Linked DNA regions of Homo sapiens. The protein of the gene in region 1 interacts with the protein of each later gene in a biochemical or structural test. Each region holds a gene or a part of one and is shown in the gene's direction. Other genes may lie near its edges.

Evidence for each region.
Region 2: the proteins of TJP1 (region 1) and CACYBP interact in a test that uses a peptide from one of them, tested with the Homo sapiens proteins (one large-scale study listed by IntAct).
Region 3: the proteins of TJP1 (region 1) and DGKH interact in a test that uses a peptide from one of them, tested with the Homo sapiens proteins (one large-scale study listed by IntAct).
Region 4: the proteins of TJP1 (region 1) and CLDN8 form a complex in vitro, tested with the Homo sapiens proteins (2 studies listed by BioGRID and IntAct, with this or other methods).

Annotation. Positions count from the first base shown.
Region 1 is NC_000015.10:29,815,969-29,819,468, reverse strand, and holds part of TJP1 (tight junction protein 1), read left to right. Parts: intron 1-3,500. UniProt on the Homo sapiens protein: TJP1, TJP2, and TJP3 are closely related scaffolding proteins that link tight junction (TJ) transmembrane proteins such as claudins, junctional adhesion molecules, and occludin to the actin cytoskeleton.
Region 2 is NC_000001.11:175,002,947-175,006,446, forward strand, and holds part of CACYBP (calcyclin-binding protein), read left to right. Parts: intron 1-1,667; coding exon 1,668-1,887; intron 1,888-3,500. UniProt on the Homo sapiens protein: May be involved in calcium-dependent ubiquitination and subsequent proteasomal degradation of target proteins. Probably serves as a molecular bridge in ubiquitin E3 complexes. Participates in the ubiquitin-mediated degradation of beta-catenin (CTNNB1).
Region 3 is NC_000013.11:42,240,648-42,243,396, forward strand, and holds the end of DGKH (diacylglycerol kinase eta), read left to right. Parts: 3' UTR 1-2,249; downstream 2,250-2,749.
Region 4 is NC_000021.9:30,213,506-30,217,491, reverse strand, and holds CLDN8 (claudin-8), read left to right. Parts: upstream 1-1,394; 5' UTR 1,395-1,566; coding exon 1,567-2,244; 3' UTR 2,245-3,486; downstream 3,487-3,986.

The DNA of each region.
Region 1 (3,500 bases):
TGTCAGGTATTGTTCTAAGTGCTCAATTTATTTAATTCTCACAGTAACCCTATGAAGTGAACTATTATCTCTACTTTTTGGTGAAGAAATTGAAACACAGAGATACGATAACTTTTAAGTTCATTTAGCCAGCAAGGTGGAAAACTACGAATATGTGGTAAAAAATAATATTGTAGACTATTGGAGAAAGTGGCTTGTTCAATGTATGGTGCTAGGACTATTGGTTATCCATTTTTTAAAAATGTTTTCTGCCTCATAGGCTAAAAAAAATCAAAGGAAATCTAAATGACAAAGAGCAATAAAAATTCTAAAATAGAAGAAAATGTAGAATACTACTTAAAAATATGTATGTACCTAGATTGAAAAGAATCCTCCGTGCATGATACTAAAGAAGTAATAAAGGCGGGTGGGTCACTTGAGGTCAGGAGTTCGAGGCCAGCCTGGCCAACATGGTGAAACCCCGTCTCTACTAAAAATACAAAAATTAGCCGGGCATGGTGGCGCGTGCCTATAATCCCAGCTACTTGGGAAGCTAAGGAAGGAGAATTGCTTGAACCTGGAAGGCGGAGGTTGCATTGAGCTGAGATCGGGGCCACTGCACTACAGCCTGGGCGACAAAGTGAGCTTCCGTCTCAAAAACAAAAAGTAATGAAGGAAAAAACGTGGCCGGGCGCGGTGTAATCCCAGCACTTTGTGAGGCCAGGAGGGGCGGATCACGACGTCAGGAGTTCAAGACCAGCCTGACCAACATGGTGAAACCCCGTCTCTACTAAAAATACAAAAAAAAAAAAAAAAAAATAGCCGGGCCTGGTGGCGAGCACCTGTAATCCCCCCTAATGGGAAGGCTGAGGCAGGAGAAACGCTTGAACCCGGGAGTCAGAGGTTGCATTGAGCCAAGATCGCACCACTGCACTCCATCCTGGGCGACAGAGCGAGACGCTGTCTCAAATAAATAAATAAAGGAAAAAAACGTTTTTTATATGTGTGATAAACGTCTGCGTTCGCAGTCAGAATTTTGTTTACTGGTGTATTTGATTTAAGATTATTAGAAAGTTGAAAAACAAGAATTAGGGTGGTTCTCTGCGTCACCAAAGAATTGTTTAAATGTGTAAGAAAGTGGTATGAATCATTGTTAAGAAACGATTTCATTGGTTGAATCACAGAAAAGTGGCTGAAGGAAGTTTCAGTGGCTTCTGTGTTTTCAAGCTGTTTTCCTTTGGAGGAAGCAATAAAATTTAATTTAAGATTGTGCTATTGTATATGCTTATTAGATTTTGCTGAATACTTAAATGTTTTTGTTAAGTCTCGGGAATAGTAGTATTGCCCGCTGTGGCTATCTGAAATTATAATGTAAGTATGAAAATGATTTATGTCATTTTTTACTGTTACACTGATTTACATGATACCCAGGAATTGATTTATTGTATCAAGTGGAGCACAGTGGGCTTTTTTTTTTTTAATTAAGTTCTGGGATCCATGTGCAGAATGTGCACATTTGTTACATAGGTATACGTGTGCCATGGTGGTTTGCTGCACCTATGAACCCATCATCTAAGTTTTAAGCCCCACATGCATTAGGTATTTTTCCTAAATGCTTTCCCTCCCTTTCCCCCCACCACCAACCCGGGTAACAGGCCCCAGGTCCTGGTGTGTGATGTTCCCCTCCCTGTGTCCATGTGTTCTCATTGTTCAACTCCCACTTATGAGTGAGAACATGTGGTGTTTGGTTTTCTGTTCTGGTGTTAGTTTGCTGAGGATGATAGCTTCCAGCTTCGTCCGTGTCCCTGCAAAGGACATGAACTCATTCTTTTTTATGGCTGCATAGTATACCATGGTGTATATATGTACCACATTTTCTTTATCCAATCTGTCATTGGTGGGCATTTGGGTTGGTTCCATGTCTTTGCTATTGTAAATAGTGCTGCAGTAAACATATGTGTGCATGTGTCTTTATAGGAGAATGATTTATATTCCTTTGAGTATATACCCAGTAATGGGATTACTGGGTCAAATGGTATTTCTGGTTCTAGGTCCTTGAGGAATTGCCATACTATCTTCCACAATGGTTGAACTAATTTACATTCCCACCAACAGTGTAAAAGCGTTCCTATTTCTCCACAGCCTCGGCAGCATCTGTTGTTTCCTGACTTTCTAATAATCACCATTCTGACGGGTGTAAGATGGTATCTCATTGTGGTTTTGATTTGCATTTCTCTAATGATCGGTGATGATGAGCATTTTTTCATATGTTTGTTGGCCGCATAAATACCTCCTTTTTTTTGGCAGCATAAATGTCTTCTTTTGAGAAGTGTCTGTTCATATTCTTTGCCCAGTTTTTGATACGGATATTTGTTTTCTTGTAAATTAGTTTCACTTCCATGTGGATTCTGGATATTAGACCTTTGTCAGATCAGTAGATGGCAAAAGTTTTTCTCCCATTCTGTAGGTTGCCTGTTCACTCTGATAGTTTCTTTTGCTGTGCAGAAGCTCTTTAGTTTAATTAGATCCCATTTGTCAATTTTAGCTTTTGTTGCAATTGCTTTTGGTGTTTTCATCATGAAGTCTTTGCCCATGCCTATGTCCTGAATGGTATTGCCTAGGTTTTCTTTTAGGGTTTTTATGGTTTTGGGTTTTACATTGAAGTCTTTAATCCATCTTGAGTTAATTTGTGTATACAGTGGGCTTTTCTTGATATCTTAACGTTTTTGAAACCTTAAGAGCTGCAGAAAATGGCCAAGCTAATGAACAAAAATTAATGACAAGAGTCAGTCATTACATATAGGGATTGTTTCTTGAGTGAGTGATGCAGTGTTTTAATTATGATAGTTACTGATCAATGCATACTTGCTTCATACTGTTTTAAAAGTGAAAAACTCACTGTAGTTTGTGAGAAGTCACTGAAGTTTGGCTGCCAACTTTTAATGATCCTCACTGTAGCAATAATTTTTGTGTGTGTTTGGCATTTTAGACCATCATGGTTAAAGCTTTAATTTATATAGTTGGCTGATAATCCTAACTACATTTTACAACTCTTACATTTGTTTCAGGACAGCTTCATAAGATAGTTATGTTTCAAATTGTGGTGTTCTTCCCCCCCAGGTTATATATTGGCACAAATTACATTATATTATTAGGAAAGACACCAATTTGCCAGACTCAAGCATGTAATCCCTGCACTTTGGGAGGCTGAGGCGGGCATATCACCTGAGGGCGGGACTTCAAGACCAGCACAACCAACACGGCCGAAACCCCGTCTCTACTAAAAATACAAAAATTAGCCGGGTGTGGTAGCACATGCCTAAAATCCCAGCTACTTGGGAGGCTGAGGCAGGAGAATCATTTGAACCCAGGAAGCAGAGTTTGCAGTTGAGCCAAGGTTGCAGTGAGTCGAGATAGCACCACTGCACTCCTGCCTGGGCAACAGAGTGAGAGTCTGTCTCAAAAAAAAAAAAGGAAAGACACCAATAAATAATGAGGTGGAAACCAATCTGTGGCTTCGA
Region 2 (3,500 bases), on another chromosome or scaffold:
AGGAGTTGTAGAATCAGCGTTTTTTTGAAACCATTACAATAAAAATATTACTTTGAACTGAAACATTTTGGTTCTATGCTCAAAAGATGAGTTTGCAAGATTTTTTGTCATAGTAATATGAGCTGTTCTTGGAAGGGTCGAGAGTGTGGACAAGAGGGTTGGGCAGAGTTGATTTTTTTTTTTTTTTGGGAGACCGAGTTTTGCTCTTGTTGCCCGGGCTGGAGTGCAATGGCGCGATCTCGGGTCACTGCAACCTTTGCCTCCCGGGTTCAAGCGATTCTTCTGCCTCAGCTTCCCGAGTAGCTGGGATTACAGGCACGTGCCACCACACCCGGCAAATTTTTGAATTTTAAGTAGAGACGGGCTTTCGCCGTGTTGGTCATGTTGGTCTCGAACCCCTAACCTCAAGTGATCCACCCGCTTTGGCCTCCCAAAGTACTGGGATTACAGGTGTGAGCCACTGCACCTGGCCAGAGTTGAACTTTTTATACCATGTCATCTGTTATAGATAGGCAAAACTAGGGCATCTGAGTTAAATGAGATAACAAAAGACTTGTAGTAAAAGAAAAGAATTAGTTCTGTTATTGCATTTTATAAGACTATTAAGAAACAGGCTTTCAAACTCTGTTGTGCGTCTGATATTCTGAGTTATAAAGCACTAAAAGACTTTTTTAAATTGAGCTTTTGATATCAAGCTGTGACACAAGATTTTTTTGGTCAAGTTGGTAGTGTCAAGCCAGAGTGTAAAGTTATTGTAAGAAAAGTGAAACAGCTGTTTGGAAAGATCTTGTGTATTTGCAGTATGTCAGAGGGTAATTGGGGGAAAAAAAACTTAGGCTCAATAATTTTCTAACATTGTCTTTAACTCTTGAATTTCATAAAATGTTGCCTCTATCTCTAGAAAGTAGAAAGTAGTAGACTTTAATAGATGATGGATTGGCAAGAGAAGAAAATGAGAACGTGGTGGCTTTTTCAAAAGATAATTTCCAAGAGTATGTTGCATTTTCGGTCTTTTGTCACCTTCTGTGCAACCAACTCCTACACTTCTGAGTGTAAGACTGACCCAGCTTCAGAGCAAGACTTTTCCTCAAAAGCAGAAATTTTTTTTTTTATCTTTTGTCTTAAAAATTAAGACTTTTTTTATGTGAGGTATTTGAGGTGGGAAGATAATGAAGACCAATCAGTGACAGAAAGTGGAGCATTCATTACCTCAGTTAAGTTTGCTATAAAAGCATTTTACCATGGTCACTGCATGTTCTCTCATCTCTTAAATATTTTAAAAGTGTCTAACATCTAATGACACTCGGATTAGATGTTACAAGGAAATCTATGAATCCTTTGTCAAAAAAAAGTTCTTTGTTTTACTTTTTAGGTCGCAGACGTTTCTTGTAAATATTTTAAAACATAAACTGGAAAATTTAGGTTTGAAGACCTATTTATTGTTTGTTCAAGATTGTTCAAAGTTTTCCTTTTGAAAAAAAGGAAGCTTGAGTTAATTACAGTTAATAAGCCAGATGGAAGAATTGAAGTTGCAACTCAATCCTAGAAAATTTAGATGAACTTCTTAATTCTTAGTGCTTATTTCAGTAAGTTGAAATGAGTGATACGCACAATATCAAGCCATTTCCTTATTTATCATAGCTAACTTATTTTTTGTCTTAACACAGCTACAGAAAGATCTAGAAGAGGTAAAGGTGTTGCTGGAAAAGGCTACTAGGAAAAGAGTACGTGATGCCCTTACAGCTGAAAAATCCAAGATTGAGACAGAAATCAAGAACAAGATGCAACAGAAATCACAGAAGAAAGCAGAACTTCTTGATAATGAAAAACCAGCTGCTGTGGTTGCTCCCATTACAACGGGCTATACGGTGAAAATCAGTAATTATGGTATGACTTGCTTCCCTATAGCCAGTTCTGCCTCCGAGCAACCTATTCCTCATAGTGGTCTAACAAATTCATCCCCAATGAGTTTTGAGTCTGTGTTTTTGGTGGTTTGGAGCAAGACCCATCAGTTTTTATTTAATAAAACTTTTTTAAGATATAAATAGGAAAGGATGCGTTCTAGAAGCTGTTAACAAGAGTAAGGTGATTCACTACAAAATGTAACAACAAGGAAGGAACTTATTCTGAAATTGTTCAGTATAAGACACAGCTTTGGTGGTGGTGGTGGTGGTGGTGGTTTTTAATCATGTTTTATGTTTCACTCTGCCAACCACCACAATTAACTGAGGAGAGGAATCCAGTTAAATTCAGGAAATATTTTTGAGCACCTAATGTGTATCACTATTGTGCTTTGACTTACGGATACACAACAGTGACTAAGACCCAGTCCTTGCTCATGTTGTGGTTGGGACATTGACGTATAACTCGTAGTATAACAATGTAGTAATACTGTTTTCCTTCAATGGTGTATACAGTTTTTTGTTTTGGCGGCAGCGCAACTTGAATATGAATGATGAGCTCTCATTGGAGCAAGGACAGTCTTGTTTTTCTTTGTGCTAATAATGTCTAGCACATAATAGGTAACATAGCTGAAGAAATAATTCTGGAGGTGAGGAACAGGGAGAATTAGAGAGATTTGAGTGTGAAGGGTGAGTCGTACATTCAGCAAGTCAAAAAGGAGGGGAACAGCATGAGCAGAGAATGTGAATAGAGAGTTGGAAGGCATGATCTATTTTGAATATTGTTAATAGTGAAAAGCATGTGTATGTCGTGCTTAAGAGATGTACTATATAGTAATATAGGAAATTGCACCGTGTACTCAGTTGAGTATAGGAAACTGGTCTGAAGGTGTTGAGGATTATGGTATTTTAACCAGGAACATAGATTTGTGTTGAGGGAGAAACTTGTCAATCCGGAGGATGGACTGACTGAATGGGAAGAAACTATTAATAAATGAAGTTCTCTGGACCCCACTAGGGCATTTTTTCATCAACACTGTTTCTTTTTAATTTTCGAGGGTACATAGTAGGTGTATATATTTATGGGGTACATGAGATGTTTGATATAGGCATGCAATGTGAAAAACGTCATGGAGGATGGGGCATGTTTCTATTCTATAGGACTAAGTGAGCAATAGTCAGGGATATGTATGTATATATTCTTGATAAACAGAAGATGCTTTTTTGTGAAGTTTTTTATTTTCTACAAATGTGATGGTATTTTGTGAAGTATTTATATATATGTCTTTTATGTTGACAGAGTTCTTCTAGGTCAGAGACGTGCTGGTAGTTTGATAATACATACTGAAATGGCATTTAACAGATACCAGTAGGTTTGTCAGATTTGGATGAAGAATTGGAGTCTTTTACATTCTACTTTGCCCTGGAAAGGAATTAAGAGAGCTAGGATTCCATTTGTTTGACTACTTACAGAAGTAGAAATGGTTATGGAATTAGTATTGATACTTAGCCATCCAGCTTAGTGGAGAACTACCAATATTTAGATGTCGGACAAAATTGTTTCCATAAAAGCTGTAAATGAACTAATCTTAAAGAATG
Region 3 (2,749 bases), on another chromosome or scaffold:
TAAACATAAGAAGGCTTGTGACTCTTATCACCCTCTATAGAATATAAAGACTAAAAATAAAAACTATTACCTCTGGGCCTGTTTTTCTTTGGGATTAGATAAAGCCTTTCTACCATATCACCAAATACTCATAAAGGCTAACACAGAAAGCTTTTCCAAGTTAATAATTTCTAAAATTAAATATCAGGGCCAGGTGTGGTGGCTGACACCTGTAATCCCAGCACTTTGGGAGGCCGAAGTGGGTGGATTACCTGAGGTCAGGAGCTCGAGACAAGTCAACATGGTGAAACCTCATCTCTGCTAAAAATACAAAAACTAGCCAGGCATGGTGATGCACACCTGTAATCCCAGCTACTCGGGAGGCTGAGGCAGGAGAATTGCTTGAACCCAGGAGGCGGAGGTTGCAGTGAGCTGAGATTGCACCACTGCACTCCAGCCTGGGCGACAGAGTGAGACTCTGTCTCAAAAAAAAGAAAAAAAATCAAAATAATTGTAATTAACTGAAATGCCCTGTTCCTTCATTCACTTGATAGACTTTTCTACCTGCTCTATACTTGGCACTCAATTAGATTCTGGGGATACAGATAAAATAAGACAAAGCTCCCATCTGGTAGAGTCCAAGTTTGTTTTCACAGTTATTTTTCCACAGTCTGTTTAAGGTATTAGGAGGACTTTTATAAACCGAGTGTTTTTCAGGTTACTTCAGAGAGGAGTCTCCTTCCACCCAAAAAAACTAACCAAATTATTTTATCATAAAGAGGTAATCCCATTTTTATGTCCACAATTTTTACATTTTTGTATCAGCCACCAATAATTTTGACTGTTTTGTCAAGTACATATTTCATCAATCCTATTTCCACAGCCGTACATGTGATCCCAGTGACTGATAGATCTGTAGAATGTGAACTCACATTTAAAGTTTATTTTGGGAAGGCATATATGCCTTTTGATGACACACACACCAAAATATATAAGAGCTGTGCATGGTAAACCCACAGTAGAAGGGAAAAAGTAATGCTTTCTGGTATACTTCAGAGGCTCCATTTGAAGATGTGCGTTGATGTTTCCTTGATTATTTTGAATGAGGAGTAGGCGGTAATATTTAACAGGTAGCATACGTATCTAAGCATATAGTAAATATTACTAGTACTTGTGTGCCATGAGGCACTAATACATAGGTGAAACAAAAATATTTTTAGTTCTAAAAAATTCTCTAGATATTTATGGATGGTTAGGCAATAGGGTTCCTTCATGAGAAGGAAAAAACTGTATCTTTATTGTCAGTAAGTGTGGAAAAAAACCCGACTTGTATGTGTATTCACAGTTTGATAGGCATATTTTGAAGTCATTGTTTTCCATCAGTATTAAGTATCATCCATTTCTATGTTCTCTAGCAAAAGAAAATTCTTAGTGTGATACAGCTTTACTCTTTGTTTGACTTTGTACAAGGTCCACAAAAGGAGGAGGCTCAAAAGATTGGACACTTTACCCTGACATTCAGCACATTCATTTTATCTTTCGATAAAGATAACCAGAAATCATTTGCCTCTTGTTTATTATCATGTTGAAAACACAACAGTATAGTTCCTTTTGTCCCTTACATTGGAAAAGGTATTTTAAATTTAGCCTTGCCGTATTATTTATAGTTAGGAATTTACTACATTTTGGTAGTCTGTTTTGAAACTAAGCACTTGTGTCTGAAAGATGCAGATAATATCTATCTATTTATTACACAGTGGGCTCTGTTTGCTGCAGAAAAGAGTGAAACTTTTAACTGCTTAGCACACTTGCCAGTGAAATATACCTGACAGAGCAGAGGTTATAACTTTGGCTCTAATTACTTTTAGTAATGGTAAGACAACGTGAGTTTTGTTTGTTTACATGCTGTTTACAATGGCATAATTTTAAAAATATATACAATTGAGATATTTATTGCCTACTATTTTAAAGATGTTTTATGTGTTTTCACCTTTGGAATATATTGTTACATTTCCTTGTACAGATAATTTTGGTGGCTTTGTTAATGTAGCTAGTAATTTTTATGACTACTAAGTGACCAGTTTTCGGTGCCTTTTATTGTGGGATGCATGATTATGTATTTATTGTACGGAAGTCACTGACGTGTGTATTTTTGTACTTTGCTGAAAGTAATGGTTGATCCTGATGTACATGATGATGAAAGACATCTTTCCCAAAGGGCACTGCCTTGAGATCATCCTTCTCAAATAAAAAGAATGCATTTGAAGAAAGTGTGAAGTCTACGTTGTTTCTGGTGGGAAATCTTTTTTAAAATTAAACTTTTAATTTTGAGACAATTGTAGATTCACATGCAGTTGTAAAAAATAATGCAGAGAGAGCTCGTGTACCCTTTACCCATTTCCCCTCCAAAGGTAACATCTTGCAAAGCTGTAGTACAGTATCACAACCAGGACATTGAGATGCATAAGGTCACAATGCTGAACAGTTCTATCACCACAAGGACCCGTAATACAGATCCCTCATGTTTCCCTTTTATAGGCATACCTACTTCCCTCTTGCCCTCACACACTTCTTAACCCCGGGCAACCACTTCTATACTTTTATCATTTCAAGAATATTACATAAATGGAATCATACAGTATGCGATTTTTTTTCACTTTAGAATAATTCCCTGGAGATTCATCTAAATTGTGTGTATTGATAGTTCATTTCTTCTTATTGCTGAGTAGTCTCGCATCTGGTGAAGGAATTCTTGATTGTAAGAACATAA
Region 4 (3,986 bases), on another chromosome or scaffold:
ACAAAATTATAACAACTCATACTACTGTGCGTCTGTCCTGCCTCTTTTTTAGAAGACAGTCTACTTGATCCTCCTTTTGCCCTTTCTACCATATAGTTTTTGTTTTAATAATATCCACAAATGACTCAGATTTTTTGAACCATGAAACTCTCAAAGTTTAATCAGTGAGCAGAAACGATTTTCTCCCATATTTGGATTTAAGGTAGTCCAATGAAACAGAGAGAAAGTAAAACTGTAAAGAGAAAATCATTTTTTATGATGTTAAGAAGAAAAGAAAATGAAGTGGCAGCTTAAACTTTGGAAAGATCAGACAGAGAGCTTAAGGTGATCTCCAGAAGAAAATTGCTAGTCGAATTTTCTCAGATAAACATTTATGCTTAGTATAGCACTACTGTTAGAGCATCATTATTTTGAGAAGAAAGTTCAAATTGTCTTGCGTTTAGGGGTTTCTATGTCCTACTGCAGACATAATATTAAAAGGTAGGAAAACATATTTGGTTAATACCTAATATAATACAGTTTGGTAAATATAGTTCCCTTGTCTTGTAAATATCTTATTTTGAAATATCAGCCATTTGTATAGGCCCAAGGGTCTTGTGTCATCTTCAGAATTCTAGTTCCTTCAGCCCAGGAATTCAAAGCAGCAAGAATAACACCACAAAATAAGCTCATAAGCTTATTTTAATGCTATAGTGCTGGATACATAAGATAATCATCTGGTGATTTTTATTTTGGCAAAAAATGTTTTTATAAGTGAAGATTATCAGAAAAGTGTCAATGAGTATTTTTTCTGGCTTAAAGAACTCCAATATGTTTTCAGTGCCAAGGAGAAGGACAGCCTTGTGTATTTAATTACTTTAGCTTATTTTGTCCTCTGGCATGATCTGTTCCCTGATTTCACCACAGTAGAGCTTGCTTTGAAGTTGTAGAAAAATTAAATCAATCACTTGGATCACATGTGTCCCAAAGAATGTGGCTTCCCAGGTAAAAGCAATCTTTCAATCCCCTACTCTCGTTTCACTTTGGCATTTCAACAGCGTTGCAGAATTCTTCGGCAGATAATTTATTTTATCCCTTGGTCCCAGCAGCTCTTATTAAGAGTTTCAGAATTGCCTGTACAAGGTGCACCTTTCACATTACAAGGGATCGGCTCATTTCTTGATGCTTATGCAACCACTTATAACTATGCCTACAGGTAAACATACTGCTGTCTTCTTGGAAGACCGAGAAGTATAAAGAATGTTTATGTGCAGGTCTAGCTGTTCCAAGTACCCAAGTGTTGGTTTAGACACACCTGGATTACCATCCACCTTTTATTGGCTGAGAAAGTTGCCACACCTGATTTGTAAGTTTACCTGTTGCAGCCAATAGCAGGGCCATCTCAGCCAGCCAGCACTGGATACTATCTGGCCAGAAGTAGCAAAGCAGCTCTTATTTGAAAAACCACTGGGTTCCGAGTTCATTACTACAGGAAAAACTGTTCTCTTCTGTGGCACAGAGAACCCTGCTTCAAAGCAGAAGTAGCAGTTCCGGAGTCCAGCTGGCTAAAACTCATCCCAGAGGATAATGGCAACCCATGCCTTAGAAATCGCTGGGCTGTTTCTTGGTGGTGTTGGAATGGTGGGCACAGTGGCTGTCACTGTCATGCCTCAGTGGAGAGTGTCGGCCTTCATTGAAAACAACATCGTGGTTTTTGAAAACTTCTGGGAAGGACTGTGGATGAATTGCGTGAGGCAGGCTAACATCAGGATGCAGTGCAAAATCTATGATTCCCTGCTGGCTCTTTCTCCGGACCTACAGGCAGCCAGAGGACTGATGTGTGCTGCTTCCGTGATGTCCTTCTTGGCTTTCATGATGGCCATCCTTGGCATGAAATGCACCAGGTGCACGGGGGACAATGAGAAGGTGAAGGCTCACATTCTGCTGACGGCTGGAATCATCTTCATCATCACGGGCATGGTGGTGCTCATCCCTGTGAGCTGGGTTGCCAATGCCATCATCAGAGATTTCTATAACTCAATAGTGAATGTTGCCCAAAAACGTGAGCTTGGAGAAGCTCTCTACTTAGGATGGACCACGGCACTGGTGCTGATTGTTGGAGGAGCTCTGTTCTGCTGCGTTTTTTGTTGCAACGAAAAGAGCAGTAGCTACAGATACTCGATACCTTCCCATCGCACAACCCAAAAAAGTTATCACACCGGAAAGAAGTCACCGAGCGTCTACTCCAGAAGTCAGTATGTGTAGTTGTGTATGTTTTTTTAACTTTACTATAAAGCCATGCAAATGACAAAAATCTATATTACTTTCTCAAAATGGACCCCAAAGAAACTTTGATTTACTGTTCTTAACTGCCTAATCTTAATTACAGGAACTGTGCATCAGCTATTTATGATTCTATAAGCTATTTCAGCAGAATGAGATATTAAACCCAATGCTTTGATTGTTCTAGAAAGTATAGTAATTTGTTTTCTAAGGTGGTTCAAGCATCTACTCTTTTTATCATTTACTTCAAAATGACATTGCTAAAGACTGCATTATTTTACTACTGTAATTTCTCCACGACATAGCATTATGTACATAGATGAGTGTAACATTTATATCTCACATAGAGACATGCTTATATGGTTTTATTTAAAATGAAATGCCAGTCCATTACACTGAATAAATAGAACTCAACTATTGCTTTTCAGGGAAATCATGGATAGGGTTGAAGAAGGTTACTATTAATTGTTTAAAAACAGCTTAGGGATTAATGTCCTCCATTTATAATGAAGATTAAAATGAAGGCTTTAATCAGCATTGTAAAGGAAATTGAATGGCTTTCTGATATGCTGTTTTTTAGCCTAGGAGTTAGAAATCCTAACTTCTTTATCCTCTTCTCCCAGAGGCTTTTTTTTTCTTGTGTATTAAATTAACATTTTTAAAAAGCAGATATTTTGTCAAGGGGCTTTGCATTCAAACTGCTTTTCCAGGGCTATACTCAGAAGAAAGATAAAAGTGTGATCTAAGAAAAAGTGATGGTTTTAGGAAAGTGAAAATATTTTTGTTTTTGTATTTGAAGAAGAATGATGCATTTTGACAAGAAATCATATATGTATGGATATATTTTAATAAGTATTTGAGTACAGACTTTGAGGTTTCATCAATATAAATAAAAGAGCAGAAAAATATGTCTTGGTTTTCATTTGCTTACCAAAAAAACAACAACAAAAAAAGTTGTCCTTTGAGAACTTCACCTGCTCCTATGTGGGTACCTGAGTCAAAATTGTCATTTTTGTTCTGTGAAAAATAAATTTCCTTCTTGTACCATTTCTGTTTAGTTTTACTAAAATCTGTAAATACTGTATTTTTCTGTTTATTCCAAATTTGATGAAACTGACAATCCAATTTGAAAGTTTGTGTCGACGTCTGTCTAGCTTAAATGAATGTGTTCTATTTGCTTTATACATTTATATTAATAAATTGTACATTTTTCTAATTATTTGACATTCTTTCACAAGTCTCCTTTTGTTTCTGTTTTATTAACTTGTAGAAGAATGTTGAAAAGCCTGATAATTTTTTATTCTCCAAATTGAGAAAGAATGTCAAGATTTGCCTTGTAAAGACAAACAGTGCATTAATTTTTGAAAATATAAAGTACTCTATGTTATTTATGTTATTTAACAACAATATACCTTATAATCATTGGATCCCTATACCAATATTCAATGCAGATAATATATTTATAATTTAAGATAGTACTATAAATTCAAGCAAATCTATATGTTATAAATATTATGTATATAACAGCCAGGTTTGAAAAATTTTCTGTAGCTAAATATATATTTCTACTTCTGAGAAATAATAAATAATATTGTCTAATGTTCTGGGGGCATGTATTACATGCTAGGACCTCTACTGCTTATATGAATTGTTATTAAATCTTTTATGAGACTGATAATGTTATTAGTTCAATTCAAAGATGAGGCTATCTCAGAACAATTCAT